Regions from separate parts of the Homo sapiens genome. Here all the other regions are linked to region 2. Evidence: fine-mapped expression QTL. A gene starts in region 2. Each other region holds a variant in brackets. All regions are shown on one strand. Distances are between the middles of the regions.

What was found. PIP is the estimated chance that this variant, and not a neighbour inherited with it, causes the effect.
Region 1: its variant is fine-mapped to the expression of CD300E in whole blood (TOPMed, PIP above 0.99).
Region 3: its variant is fine-mapped to the expression of CD300E in whole blood (TOPMed, PIP 0.92).

Annotation. Positions count from the first base shown.
Region 1 is chr17:74,647,668-74,652,891 of GRCh38, forward strand. No RefSeq gene overlaps it. Among named protein-coding and RNA genes, the nearest start is that of CD300E, 27 kb to the left of the region's middle. The variant G/T (reference allele first, on the strand shown) is at 3,253.
Region 2 is chr17:74,620,715-74,625,938 of GRCh38, forward strand. It overlaps CD300E (CD300e molecule), which reads right to left and starts at 3,024. Exons shown (of 4, transcript NM_181449.3): 1 at 2,868-3,024. The coding sequence starts at 2,907. It overlaps LOC101928343 (a long non-coding RNA gene), which reads left to right. Exons shown (of 4, transcript NR_158152.1): 4 at 4,813-5,224.
Region 3 is chr17:74,600,590-74,605,813 of GRCh38, forward strand. LOC101928343 (a long non-coding RNA gene) reads left to right here. Exons shown (of 4, transcript NR_158152.1): 2 at 3,261-5,224. Among named protein-coding and RNA genes, the nearest start is that of CD300LD, 11 kb to the left of the region's middle. The variant G/A (reference allele first, on the strand shown) is at 2,690.

The DNA.
Region 1 (5,224 bases), 27 kb after region 2:
AAGTTTAGATTTCCAATGCCACTGAAATCTCACCTAAATTCAGGGCAATCAGAGGGAGAAGCTTCTACACACCCCAAATCTCAGGCTGTCTCTCCATCTCCTTCCCTTGGTCAAGTGGCAACCTCCCAAGGACGGCCACAAGGCACCCAGAGCCCAGCTGCAGAGTCCACTGGCTCTGTGGGAGTCCTGGAGATAAAGGACACCACCGTCCCCTCTCAGATGCCCCAAGCTAAATGGACCCAGCAAAGCCTGGCCCAGCAGCTCCAACTGCTGTCTGTGGGGAAGCTGGCTGAAAGAGCTCCGGGGCAGGCTCCGTGTCTTATCTGTCCTGCAAATCCAGAGCTGTGGGTGCCAGGAGCCAAAGCCTCATTTCTGAGCCTGGTTTGTGTCCTAGCTTAGCCCAGATCCTAAAAGTCAGGAGATGAAGGAATGGCCATCATTCTTCTTGACTCAACTGCATGTTTGAGAACTAAGATGCCAGGACTCACAGTGACAGGAGAGGCAGTGCAGTCCCCCAGTGCATAGCAGCTGCACCCTGAGGCTGGTGTGTCTGAGCAAAGCCAATGCAGAGCTGCGGGCCCTACAGATCCCATGGGGAAGGAGGGAGAGGGGAGGGCAGGGGAGGGTAGCAGCTGAGGAGGGTTCTCACTGCCTCGCCTGAAGCTGAAACCTAGCATCCAGTGGGTGATAGTGCCTGGCACGTTGCATTTCCCAGGGATGGAAAAATGTACTTTTGTCCCCTCCAATCAGTTGGAGGTGTGCCTGGAAAAGTGAGTTGAGAAGGATGGGGCTGAGCTTGGGCCTCCTGGGCTATCACAGCCACTGAGTACTGAGTGAAGAGTGATGGCTGATGAGAGAGGGAAGCGAGGGTGGGTGTGCGTGTGCCAGGCTTTCACAGCTCCAGAGCTGAGCTGCTCCAGAGCTCATATCGATAGAGACAGAATAACTTCATCCACAGGATTCTGCCTGCTGAGAATCAGAAACAAGTTCCCTCTTCCTGGCCAGCCATGCCAAGAGCCCTCAGCTAGACCCGTCAGGATTCTAGGTCCCTAAGGGGCACGGAGCCTCCATGGACTGTCCTGTTTGTGGTTTTAGCCTCTGGGAACAGTTGGCTCCCATCTGACCCAGCAGCAGCCAGAAAACATCACCACACTTGATCCAAGAACCCACCGTTGGGGCCACCAGGCAACCAAGCCACCAGGCTGAAGTTGCAGGCAGCCCCTAGCCCTCTCTCCTCACCTCTCCGTCACCCTCTTCCTCCTCCTTTCCTGCCATTCGCCATCTATCAAAATAAAAACTCAAATTTTAAGGACAAATCCTAGAAAATGAGTGAATACAGAACATCAGGGAAGAGGAATGTAGCATTAGTTTTATCCCTTAGGCCTTGAGCATTGATGAGTTTAAAGAAGGAAAAATCAAGAAGGAAACTTGAGTGAAGAGAGGCAACGAATGGGGGAAAAGCTGGGCAAGATGTTAGAAGGACCGGATTCTAGTCCCAGTTCACCACTCACCTGGGGCACCAGACGTCACTGTTCTCACCTGAGGTCCTGGTTGTGCATAGGGTTGTCTCTGGGCATTGGAGGGGAGAACCAGGGAGCCGGCCCCCAGGACCACCCCTGCATCACTTAATGCAGCTTCCAGATTACATTTTATTTTTAGTAGAGACGGGGCTTCACCATGTTGGCCAGGCTAGTTTTGAACTCCTGGCCTCAAGTGAAACACACACCTCAGCCTCCCAAAGTGCTGGGATTACAGGCGTGAGCCACTGTGCCTGGCCTCCAGATTACGTTTTATTTCAACAAGAGTTTCTGCAACCAAAAAAATTAGAGTATTAAATATTTTCTACAAAGAGTATATACGACCTGTAAGTTATAAAGAATAATAAAATGCACACCTATGTGCCCCCACCCAGCTTAAGAAAGAGAATAACTTTAATTTTTTTATTTATTTTTTGTTTCCTGATTCAAATGTAACATATATTGACTATAGAAATTTTGCAAGATCCGGAAGAGAGAAAACAAGTATCACCACAACTTCATTATCTTTTTGCAAACATTCTGGTGACAATTCTTTCCTGTTTATCCTGGGTGTGTATCTTTTTTCTGAAATTGAGATCCTATGGTGCAAATTGTCCCCTTTTTTCCATCATGGCCATCTTCCTTGGATCAGCTAATTTCTTGGCACCCTTTCACCTCCAAGATTTCAAGTTAAAAACCCCCGGATTTTTTGTGGGAGTGGGATTCAGAGTTGATTTTCCAAAAAGAAGCAGTAGTAGGAATTGACAGATTGGGGAAAATCTGTCCTGTCTGGCTTCTACCTGAAACATACACTACATTAAGAGGTTGATAAAGTGCATCCTGTCATATCTCGCCCAGAGCGGTATCTCAGGATTAATGTTGATTGATGTTTGTGTCTCATGAGGCTGAAAGCATGAGGCATCTCTGGAGATAAGAAGGAAAATGAAAGCCAGTGCTTTCAGGATTAAAAAAAAATGCCTTAGAAGGCTTCCCTGCAGCTCCAAGCCAAGCACCGGGGCCTGTGATAGATTCTCAGTACACACTGCGTGCCTGTATCTCATCGTTGTGCCTGTTCAGTCATCATTTATCCAGAGGATAAGGCACGGTTCTATAAACCTACCTAGAACACACTCAGGCAAAAGGGGACATACATTAGAGGAATACGAGGCTATCACCCATCATTCAAAGAAAATCCATGGGAAAGGCAAGGATCCTGTTGGGTGTCGGGGTCAACTGGAACCGGGCAATCAAACAGCCCCTGGGTTCTCTCTTCCTTGTCCTCTCTGGGCTCTATTCTCTCACCCTAGAGACAGCTTTCTCCAGGAGGAGGGAAAATGGCCACTGACACCTCTCACGTTTTCCATCTTAGGAGTTTTATTCCCAGAGAAAGCCTTACTTCCTTCCTTAGCCTCAGTTAAAAGTAAAAAGAAACCCTGCCTGGGAAGAACTGAGATTGGCCTGACTTTCATCAAGTGCCCAATCCTGGACCATTCCATTGTGTCCAGGGTCACTGAAAGTGGCAGCACACCCCACTGAATTGCAGCCATGCAGTTAGGGGATATCTGAGCCTAAGAGCAGTCGCTGATCCTAAGCAGGAGTTGAAATCATGAAAGTGGCTGCAAATCACCCAGTGAGTGTATAGAAGGAAAAGAAGAAAGCAGGGCAGAACACTGGGCGTAAACACAATTTAAAGAATGGAAAGAAGACAAGGAATCCAGGAAGAAAAGTGAAAATG[G/T]CTATAAAAAAAAGCAAATAGGTGGAAAATCCAGACAGCACAGAGCCACAGGAGCCAAGAAGGCTGGAGTTTGGAGGAGGACGGAGTACCCACCAGCATGGAAGTCCAGGAAAACATGCAAAGGAGAATGGCCCTGGGGTCTGGAAGCAGGAGGGGCACTGGTGATCTCTGCAAATGCCATTTCCGTGGAGGGTGGGAGTGGAAGCCAGGTGAAGACCAGCAAATACAACCTGAGGGTAGTTCTTGAGGAAAATAGTTAGGGAAGGTGGGAAAGGTGGAATAGGAAGCGGGAGAGGCAGAGGAGACAGTCCCTTCCACCTTAACCACATGGGTTTATAGATCAGACCTCCCTTGACACCAAACCCTTTGCATGCAATCCCCTGTTATTCAATCCAATGTCACATTAAATGTCCATGCTATACACTATAAGAAAGTATTTCTAATAATAATAGCTAATACTTATAATAAATCACAGAGGCCTGACTCAAGCTCACGTTCTCACCTATTCTTTCTGCTCCTTCCCCACTGGTCCACTAAAGTAAAGGAGTACATTTTTTTTTTTTTGAGTCGGAGTCTCGCTCTGTTGCCCAGGCTAGAGTGCAATGGCACGATCTTCAGCTCACTGCAACCTCTGCCTCCCGAGTTCAAGCAATTCTCCTGTCTCACCCTCCCAAGTAGCTAGGATTACAGGCGCCTGCCACCATGCCCAGCTACCTTTGGTATTTTTAGTAGAGATGGGGTTTCACTGTATTGGTCAGGCTTGTCTCTTTGCCAGGCTGGTCTCGAACTCCCGACCTTGTGATCTGCCCACCTCGGCTTCCCAAAGGGCTGGGATTACAAGGATGAGCCACTGTGCCTGGCCAGTAATGGGGTAATTTGTCTAGAGGGAGATGATAGAGCAACAGAGGCCAGCTCCTCCCAGACTTACAGCCTTCCCCTAAGAAAAATGAGTGCTCTCTCCTTCTATTTCTACCAAACATCTACCTCCATTCTACCAACACTCTCTCCCAGCTCTCTGAAGGAGAAATAAAGCCCTGTCTGAGTTATGTGTGGAGGCACAACCATTAGTTTTGGACAAAACAGCAATTCTAGATAATTGCAATGTTCAGGGTGTCTGCCCCCTACCCAATGGCCCCTCTCTGGAGTCCAAATCTCCCCTTCTCTGCTTCATGCTGTAGGAAACTGCAGAACTGACAATGAGGTTATGAAATGCCTGGGCGTATAAAAGGCAGACAGTGCTAGACTCCAGGAGACTATTCAAGGCTGGCTTTATTTAGTGTGTCCCACAGCCACTAATTGCCGGGCAGATCCTGATGCCATAGCTGATAGAACAGCACAAGGCAGCTAGGACACCCGCAATGTGGCCTTCTGGAAATGGGACCAAAAGCCCATTCTCATAACTTGTCTTAAAAGTAGGTTCCCCTCTGGTTCAGCCACAACCACTGCTGGTGACCTCACTTCAAACCTGGCTGTGCTGCACTGGGGCTGCTGACACACACCTGACTATCATAAGTCGCTGTCCTTTGTCATATTCTTCCTGCTGGTGCAATATTTTTCTTCCTGCCTATGGCCTAATTTTTAGGGCAGGAAGATGAAAATAAGACCTTCCATCTGTTCCCACTTCTAAAATATTAGGTGTAAAGAAATATTCTCTCTGAATTAAAAACTTTCCACGTTGAACCACTAACTTGAAAGTTACTCTTTACTTTTTTCTTTCCCCTTTCCCCTCTTCTTTTCTTCTCCTTTGATTCCTTTTTACTGAAATCCATCCCCAGCCTCTCCTCTCTCTCCACATTACCCCCATCCCTCTTCTTCAGTTCCCTCTATTACCCATCTTCTCTCCTTTCCATGGTCCAGACCACAGCAAGGCAAAAAAGGCACGTAGGGCACAAAATCTAAGGAGTCTTCCCGAGGTGCAGGCATGACCCTGAGAGTGACTGTCCGTAGACACCTTTGTCACCTCGCCCTAGAT
Region 2 (5,224 bases):
CTAAAGCCCAGTAAGCAAAGCCACCTCCAAAATGGAGGTAAAGCAAGGCAACTTGCAGAGGGGAGAGCCTGGATAGGTGAGCTTAAAGAAAAAGATAAAGGCCAAGGTGAGCGGATCACTGGAGGTGAGACCAGCCTGGCTAACATGGTGAAATCTTGTCTCTACTAAAAATACAAAAATTAGCCAGGTGTGGTGGCATACGCCTGTAACCCCAGCTACTCGGGAGGCCGAGGCACGAGAATTGCTTGAACCTGATTGGCGGAGGTTGCAGTGAGCCAAGATCACCCCACTGCACTCCAGCCTGGGTGACAGAGCCAGACTCCCTCTCGAAAAAAAAAGAAGAAGAAGAAGAGGAAAGAAAAAGATGAGATAAGGGGTGTGGCTGATTAAATCACAGACCCTCAGATGTAGAGCATGGCTTATGGTTGCTTAGCCCAATTTTCTACTTAATGTAAAAATATAACAAAAGCAAATTTTCATGCAAAGTATTGGCAGATGACACCAAATTACTGTTGTTTGAAAGAAGAACCAGGACTGGATTGGGAAGGAGTGGGTAGATCCATGCTGTTGATAACATTCTAGTTCATGGATTGGCCAGTGAGCTCACAGATGTTTGTTAAGTTACATATAATTAAAATAAAAGAGGGTCTTGAATGGACCAGTGATGAGAGAGTGTTCCATGACCCATGATCTAATTCTGGGCACCTGAAGTTAAGGAAAAAGAAGGTTATGCTAATTCCAAGATACTTTCCTCTGTCCTGCTAGAGTGTTACCTGAATGCAAGATTAGCATTTCTCAAGGAAATCCAGCATGTTCCTGGAAATAATTGATGGAATTATATAAATGCGTCGGTGCATTTGTTGAAACATGTGCTTGCTGGTTGCTTGAGGTTAATGGGAGCTACTAAATATTGGACAGCAATCAGTTCAGAATGGAAATACCAGATGATGTGGCAGAGAGGTCAGCTATTTTGTCACTATTACTAGGTTAGCCTTATTCTTGACACCTCCATGGCCAATGGAAAGAGCTCTGTGGAGGACACAGATCTGGACTTCATTTCCAGCTTGTCTACTTAGTTCTTATGTCATCAGATCTCCCTTCATCATCTTATTTATAAAGTGGAGTCAATGCTATTTGCCCTGCCTGGGTCACAAAACTGCTCAGAGGGTTAAATTCTATCATCTATTTGGAAGTGTTTATAGGTTATAAAAATGTGTAATAAATAGAATTCTAGTTTTGCTCTTTTTAAATTTTTTACTTTTCTTTTTTTGTAGAAATGGGGTCTTGCTATGTTGCCCAGGCTGATCTCAAACTCCTGGGCTGAAGCATTCCTCCTGCTTTGACCTCCCAAAGCACTGGGATTACAGGTGTGAGCCACCTCACTCAACCAACGTTTGCTTATTTTGTATTTGAATTTGCTTCCTTCCTCTTTGTCATTTCCCCTCCCTGCTAGAATTGCCCTTTCCATCTCTCTTTCCCAGTTAAGATTTTCAGAGGGACCTGCGCAGGTCACATTGCGAGTCTGAGGATGGGGAATGAGATAGGGGTGGAAAGAGAGATGGAAAGGGCAAAGAAAAAGGAAGCAAATTCAAATACAAAATGAGCAAACATTGGTTGAGTGCAGTGGCTCATGCCTGTAATCCCAGTGCTTTGGGAGGTCAAGAGAGGAGGATTGCTTGAGCCCACGAGTTTGGGTCCATGTCACCTACCTGGTCTTCTTCCTTTAAATCGCTGTCATTTTCACTCACCCTTCTAGAAAGAATCTTGTCATTACATTGGGCAATTTCTATGTTTTGTGAGGGAACTCAACCATAAAATTCATTCTGCAAACATGAAGAATGTCCTCTAATTTTTAGCCTAAATTTATTTCCCCAGAGACAAATGTGTTTTCCTGCAGTTTTGTATTTTGAATGTCTATTAATAAGAGTTTCTCTTCTGAAGTCCAACCTTTGCAGGACAGTTTCATTTACTTGTTTACACCACACCTTGTTCCGGGAAGGATTTAAGGTAGATGTTGAGGATGGCATTTTTTTTTTTCAGACAGGATCTCAACTCTATCACCCAGGCCAGACTGCTGCAGTGGTGCAATCTCGGCTCACTGCAACCTCCGCCTCCCAAGTTCAAGCGATCCTCCTGCCTCAGCCTCCCTAGTAGCTGGGACTACAGGCATGCATCACCACGCCCAGCTAATTTTTGTATTTTTAGTAGAGACAGGGTTTCACCATGTTGGCCAGGCTGGTCTCAAACTCCTGACCTCAGGTGATCCACCCACCTTGGCCTCCCAAAGTGATGGGATTACAGGCGTGAGCCACCACGCCCAGCCCATTAATTATTTCTCACAAACCATTCCAACCCCTTTACACTAAGCTTCGTCAAAACAGAACTATTGTTAATTCTTGAACTCTCCATGGTCTTTAATGTCCTCACACTTGCACATAAGCTATTCCTTTCCCACTCAGCCAACTCATTCATCCTGCAGGATGGACTTCCAATGAAGCCTCAGTGACATCTCCCACCCTTCCAAGAGCAAAGTGAGGGGTTCCTGTTGCATACTCTCATCACCACATGAATGAGTCTCTACAACAGTAATTTCCACATTGTATTGTAGTTAGTTGACTCCCTCAGTTCAGAAGTTACTCTTAATTACAGCACCCAGAACAGTCCTGGCACATATCTGGTGCTCAGTAAGTGTTTGTAGGATCCGTGGATGAATGATTGAATGTATAGAAGGATGCACAGGTGAATGAACGGATGTATCTTTCCCTTTTCTGTGGACACTTCACCTCTGGTTTGAACCCAGGACAGCTCTTCTACCTACTGTCCTGCCCCCTGCAAAACCAAGTCCCCAAAGCCACAGCCCCACTCACCTGAGAGGCAGAGAAGGAGTAGAGCTGGGAGCAGCCACATGTTCCTGTCTCCTTGGCTTCCGTCCTCAGCAAATCTAGGTCCCAGCTGGAATCCAAGTATATGTAACGGAGCCTGGGTCATCCACTTTCTACTTGTCCAAGTTTCCTTTGTGTTCTCACTCATCTATTTCCTCTTTTGCCTTTTAAAGAATGCTTCCTAATTTTAAGCCTTACTTAGCAGAAGAGAAAGGGTGGCAAGAGACGTTTCTGAGAATGGACCAAGCACAAACAGGAAAATCTGTTGGCCTTCATTTAATGTGAACGTAATGTTTGAGTCACCCCCTGAGATTTCATGACTCGGAATTTCATGAAAGTCAGTCCCAGTTTACGAAACCTCTCCAACAGAGAAAACTCTGTTCCCTGCCTCTTTCACTCTTCTTCCTATCTGGGATTACTTCATCGATCTAAGGAGCTTCCCTTCTCTATGGCTGCCTACTTTTGAATCATAAAACACCCTCTACTTAAGGAGCTGTGGTGATCACTCCCCATGTCTTTCTCAACCGTTATCTCCATGCGGATGACTTCACACCTCTTCCTCTAACCCAATATCCCAATATCTCTCCTGGGCTCCAGATCCTACTTTCTAACTTCCTATAGGGAAGCTCCACCTGGTTATACACTGTTAACCTAGTTCAGTATATGGGTCATGGTCAACAGCATAGATTCTGAAGTCACACAAACTCAAATCTCATCTCCATCATTTATTAATCATCTGACCTTGGGCATGTTGCCAAATCACTCTCCTCCTCAGTCTCCTCATCTGTAAAATAGAGTACTCATGACAATTCTTTCTCAAAGGGTTGCCACAGGAAATAAATGAGTTAATGTAAGTAAAGTGCTTGATACAGTGCCTGGAACATAGTAACTGCCCAGTTAATATTAAATACCTTTAGAATAGTCCTGGACCATTGAAATAGCTTCTCATCTGGTCCCTCCACTAGCTATACATTCTCTCTAATCCAACTTGCACATCAGAAGATACTCTTCTCTAAGACATAGCTATCTGAAAATATAATTTCTTTCCTTCTCTTTCCCCAGAGATACCCATCTTTGATACCCACAGCCTCTAATCTTTACTATCTTTTAGAACTCTACTGGATCATCTGATATTTCAAACTTTTGTTGTAAGAGCACAACTTCTTATCTTTTCTGTACCACCATATCTGATGAAGTATTATATAGCCAGGCATGGTGGCACGTGCCTGTAATCCCAGCTACTTGGGAGGCCAAGGCAGGAGAATCACTTGAACCCAGGAGGTGGAGGTTGCAAAGCAATGAGCCAAGATCACACCATTGCACTCCAGCCTGGCAACAGAGAGAGACTCCATCTAAAAAAAAAAGAAAGAAAGATGAAAGAAAGAAAGAAAAAGAAAGAAAGAAAGATAGATAGATTATATATAGAATAGAGCCCTGGATGGAACAATAAAACACCAGGACCCTGGTCCCATGTGTGACATGAGCCACACACTTGAGGGATCCAGAATGAGCAGAGCTGACAGTAGCCACAACATTGTGTCTTAGTCCATTTTCTTCTACTATAACAGAATACTACAGGCTAGCTAATTTATAAAGAACAAAAGTTGGCAGGTGCAGTGGCTCATGCCTGTAATCCTAGCACTTTGGGAGGCCGAGGCACGTAGATCACTTGAGGTCAGGAGTTTCAGACCAGCCTGGCCAACATAGCAAAACCCTGTCTCTAACAAAAATACAGAAATTAGCCCTGCATGGTGGTATGAGCCTGTAGTCCCAGCTACTCAGGAGGCTGAGGTGGGAGAATTGCTTGAACCCAGGAGACGAAAGTTGCAGTGAGCCAAGATCACGCCACTGCATTTCAGCCTGGGCGACAGAGAGAAACTCTGTCTCAAATAATAATAATAAAAAAGAACAAATTTGTTCACCTTCCTAGCTTTCTGAAGATGAGAAGTCCAAGAGCATCGTAGTGGCATCTGACAAGCGTCATTCCATGGCAGAAGACAAGACAGCAGGCAAGCCTCCTAGACAGAGAGAAAAAGGGGACTGAACTCAGCCTCTCAGGAAACCACTCTCACAATAACTAACCCACTCCGGAGATAACAGCATTAATCCACTCGGAGGACTGAGCTCTCATGGCCTAATCACCTCTTAAAGACCTCACATCCCAATGCCATTACATTGACAGTTAAGTTTCAACACGAGTTTCTGAGGGAACATTCAAACCATAGCAACCCTTGTGCCATTTATTCAGCAGAGACAACAGTTGCAGGCTTCAGTTCTTTCCACCAAGAGGACCAAACAAATCTTCAGCCTTCTTGGTTCTGCTTTTATAATGTTTTCTTCTG
Region 3 (5,224 bases), 20 kb before region 2:
CTAGTTTAGAAGCCTCCACAGCTTGTCATGAGTTGTAGCTAAAATGGAGCAGCTCAGAGTTACAGGGAGGAAGACAGGCAATAAGGCAAGGATGTCATCGCTCTCTGGAATGTAAGTCAACCCCACACATCAGCCTGCTTGAGCTTCTGCTCTGGACGAGCCAAAGACCAGACCATTGTTCAAGGTTGTAAGTACAACAACTGAGACAGATACAAAGTGGTCTGGTGGCACCAGGGCGGGGCTGAACCAACCCTTCAGGGAGGGGAATAAGGGCTTAAGTCCATCAAGCAAGGAAGAGACAACTTCCTGGGCAAAGGGAGCAACTTGTGCAAAGGTATGGAGACAAAAATAGCATGGTGCTTAGGCAAAGAAAAACAACTGTGCACTGAGTGTGTGCACAGGTGTGTGAGTGTTGGGGGTGTGTGTGTGTGTGGGGGTGTGGGTGTGTTTGGTTCCATGAAACTTTATCACATGTGCAGACTCACAGGAGAGGGTTTTTAGGGGTGTGGGGTGCAGTGCCAGTGGGCGGAGGAGTTGGGGGAAGCCAGGATGTCTACCTGTTCAGCTCTGGGATTTTAAAATAAATCGGTGGCTGGCCGGGCGCGGTGGCTCATACCTGTAATCCCAGCACTTTGGGAGGCCGAGGAGGGCAGATCACCTGAGGTCGGGAGTTCAAGATCAGCCTGACCAACATGGAGAAACCCTGTCTCTACTAAAAATACAAAATTAGTCGGGCGTGGTGGCGCATGCCTGTAATCCCAGCTACTCGGGAGGCTGAGGCAGGAGGATTGCTTGAACCCAGAAGGCGGAGGTTGCGGTGAGCCGAGATCGCACCATTGCACTCCAGCCTGGGCAACAAGAGCAAAACTCCGTCTCCAAATAAATACATAAATACATAAATAAATAAAATAAACTGGTGGCTGCAGTGAGAGCCAGGGATTGGTGGGGAAGTGGGTGTCACCTCAGGGCAAAGGAGGGAAGGTTTCCAAAATGAGAGGGTGTTCAGTGGTCGCTAGGATGGCGCATGAACAGACCACTGTGTTGGGCAGTTGGAGCCCTCAGGAGAACTTTGTCAGAGGGGTGACAACAAAAGAAATACTGCCGGGGAATTAAGGAACAAATGGATGTGAGAATTTGACAATTTGGGGGCTGAGGATAAAGGCTCCTGGTTGGTCCCCAGGGAGGTGCCGGAAGCCCTGGGCAGTGCCCAGGGAGGGAAGATCTGGACGTTGGGTTCTGTCTTCCAGAGTATTTCTCCATCTATGGTCCTAGAGCTGTGTGGGGCACAGAATGGGACTCACTGACAGTGCAGTGTCATTATGACCAAGGCTGGGAGACCTACAGCAAGTAGTGGTGCCACGGGAAGGACTGGCAGTCCTGCAAAATCCTCATTACAATCACAGGATCAGAGCAGACAGCGGAGAGAGACCGAGTGTCCATCAGGGACGATCAGAAACATATACCCTAAAACTTAAAGTATAATAATAATAAAATTTAAAAAAAGAAAAGAAAAGAAAAACCGTGTGTTCACCATAACCATGAAGATGCTCTGGAGGTCCGACACTGACACCTACTGGTGTGGGATTGAGAGGACAGGCACTGACCTTGGGGTCCAAGTTGAAGTGACCATTTACCCAGGTCGGAGCAGCTCCCTCCTGTACCAAACTCTGGTGCTGACCCGAGAGGATTCAGTGATGCTGTCTTGACATTGTCCTGGGACTACGTGTGTGCATGGGCTTGTGTGTGCTTGTGTGTGCCTGTGTATGTGTGCCTGGGCTTGCCCGTGTCTATATGTGTGCTGTGCATAGATGTATGTGTACGAATGGGCCCGTGTGTGTCTGTGTGTACATGTCTGTGTTTGTGGGCCTATGTGTGTGCATGTGCATGTGTGTGTGTTTGGGGGGAGGGGTTACACCAAGATTCTGGAAAGACTGGAAGACAGAGCAAGCCTCAGTATCTCTGTATGTCTCTATCTGCTATTATCAGAGGGAGCCAAGCAGAACTGGGTCAGCTTGGGCAGGCACAGTGCAGGGTAAGAAAGAAGGCAGGTTCTCTTCTGCAAGTCACTTGGGGCAACCCGTGCCCCCTCAGAGCAGCCCCAGCCTGACGGGAGGACTTGTCAGGTGTACAGGGAGGGGAATGCAAGAAAATCGCAATCCCAGAAGTCTCAGCTCCAGGACAAGCATGTAGTGACCAAGAGCCCATTGGTGACCCTCTCCTTGGAGCCACCTCTCTCTCGTCCTCTCCCACCTCTGGTGACATATGGACAAAGGAAGGCATGGGAGACTCTGACCCATTCCTGAAAGAGGGAAAAACAGAACCCGGCATAGTGCAGAGCCCTCCCACAGGCCTCCCCTGGCTGCCCCGAGCCTTTGAGGATACTGAGAACTCACAACAGGGGGCTCCTAGAAAGAGAGTCCGGCTGTCATCCTCACTCCACAGCCCAGCCCCCAGAGCCATCAGTGTCATCTCCGCCGTGGGCACCAGAGAAACTGTCAGCTCCCCATGCACATGCATAGATGCTGCAGCTCAATCATATATCTGTTACTTGTGGGCCCATTTACAAGGCAGGGAAAAGTCCTTTTCAGCTTAGTATATGCGGATGTGGTGTGCCTGTGTGTGTGTGCAGTGGGGAAGTCTGGTTTTAGAATGTTTCAGAAATTGACTTAAAAAGAGAACAAAGGCATGA[G/A]TGGAAGGAAAGGAGGAGCTGGGGGAGAGTCGGAGGCTGCAACCCTCCAAGCCTAGTGAAATAAGGAAGCTTTGGGGAGGCAGGAAAACTTCAGCTGGAAACAGATGCTCTGCCCAGCTGCAGGGGAGAGGAGTCCTGAGTCCCCAGGCAGGGCCCAGGGAGGGGCAGCTGGCTCTGAGGGTCACTTTGCTACACAGCAGGCAACAAACAGCCTGCTGGAGCCCAGGCTGAGACTCAAGAGAAGGGCTGGCTGGCTCTGATGTAGAACTTCAGGGAAGCAGAGTGTGGTTCTCAACGCTCAGCTGTGCAACGCAGGACTCTGGGACTAAGTTGAATATTTGTAAATTGCCTGCATAGCTTCTCGCCACAAGTCCTTCCCAGGTGGTGCAGTGATGTTTGTTTGTAAGTGAAATAATATTACATTTTAGGTAAGATACCAAAAAGATACAAAACAAAACAACTGTAGTGCTAAGACTAAATGCTTCACGATCCTTGGAGGGGTAAGAGGTGACGTGAGCCACGGGGAAGCCACCTAGGTCACCCTCAAAACTATCCTTTGCATGTCCCACAGCAACTCCAAGAAAACAATCTGAACCTAAGACAACAGACGCAGCTGCACCTGGGACAGCAGACACAGCTGGGCCTGGGACAATGGACACAGCTGTACCTAGAAAAGCAGAAACAGCTGTGCCTGGGAAAAGGAACACAGCTGTGCCTGGAACAGCAGACCCAGCTTCACCTGGGACAGCAGACACAGCAGAACCTATGAGAACAACCACTCCAACAGTTCTGGCCTCCTGGCCTTCTCTCACCCAGAGCACCAACAGCACCCAGCCCACGGCTCTTACCAGCCCCCTCACCAGGTGAGCAGAGCTGGGCTCCCACAGACCTTTCCCTAGGCTGCCCCATGACTGCTCCTTCAGATGCTCTCACCAGGGACCCTCATGTGGCGCTCGTCAGGGGAGAAACAGTGAAGTCTGTAGTGGGCCTTCCCCTCCCTGTCTACACCTGAGCACTGCAGGAGATTCTCCCTGATGAGCTGCAACAGGCTGAGCTCCAGAGAGCAGGCTCTGGGCTCCATGCTTCACCGAGTCCCTCAAGCCCCAGGAGGCAAAAGCGAGGTGAAGCTTTGGGTGCTCTGGAAGGGCAGCTGTCTGGGTGGCTTTCCTGTGGCTGCTGTAACTGATCGTTACAAACTTTGTGGCTTAAAACAACACAGTCTCATGATCATACAGCTGTGGAGACCAGAAGTCTGAAATGGGTCTCACTGGGCTGAAATCAAGGTGTTAACAGGGCTGGTTCCTTCTAGAGGCTCCAGCGGAGGGCCTGTTCCCTTGCCTTTTCCAGCTTCTGGAGGCCACCCGTGTTCCTTGGCTCATGGCCCCCTCCTACCCAAAGCCAGCAAAGGTCGGTGGAGTCTCCCACAGAGCATCGCTCCACTGTCTCTCCTGCCTCCCTCTTTCATTTATAAGGACGCTGGTGATTCCACTGGGCTCAGCCAGATGATCCAGGATAATCCACCCTGGGTCACCTGACGAGCAGTCTCAAATCCACCCACTGCCTTAATTCCCCCTTGCATGTAATAAAACATATTCACAGGCTTTGGGGTTATGACATCGTGGGTGGGGTTCACTATTCTGCCTACCACAGTCACAGGCAGGGGTGTGCCCATCGCTCCAACTCTCCAGCCAAGGCTAGGGAAGGGCAGGGCGGGAGAGCGGGAAGCTGGGCCTCTTGCTTTTCTTTCACATTCCCAGCATGGTAGATGGGTGTGGACATCAATCCGAAGCCCACCTCCTTTCGAGGGATCAATAGGATGTCTCATCACCGCGCAAATGCGGCTGCCCCTGTTTAACCCCATCACAGCCTGGTGCTTCAGGATCCCTCAAAGTCCAGGGTCAAGGCCCATTCTCTCCCTGGATCCTGCCTTCCCTGCTCCACCGGCTCCCTTCTCCAGCCCAACTCCGTTCCTTTCAAAGGGTCTTGTTCCCTGGAGCCTGCCAGCACCGATCCTGTGTTCCCTAGGAGTCCGGAAGAGGCGAGGCACTGGGGATGCTTCCTGACCTGGCCTTCGTCTCGCTCCACTGTTTGCAGAGCGGTTGTTCTGCTGAGTGGGGATGGCAGTGCCAGGACTTCTAGCGAGACGGGAGAGGCACAAGGGGAAACTTGGCGGGAAGAGACCAAGGGTGCGGCGGCTCCACGGGGAGTGGAACTTGCAAGAAGAACACAGTGGTTTAAAGGGTATTTTTAGGATGTGCAATATGGCAGGCCTGCTCTCACTCAAGAAAACTCTGAGTTAAATTCACATGACTCATCACTGCTTCCATGCCCTGGGCTGGAGGCCAGCTTCGGGGAGAGAACAGGGATGGCCTGAGGGAAAGGGCCCTGGCACTGGGTGTAGGGGAGTGGATGAGGAATAAGACTGGGGAATCAGACTCTTACACGCTGATGGGGACTCCCCAGAACCCACTCGTTTAGCTAGACCAAATATTAAACATGTGGGTGATATGAGGCAGCAGGTCTCAGATCTGCTGT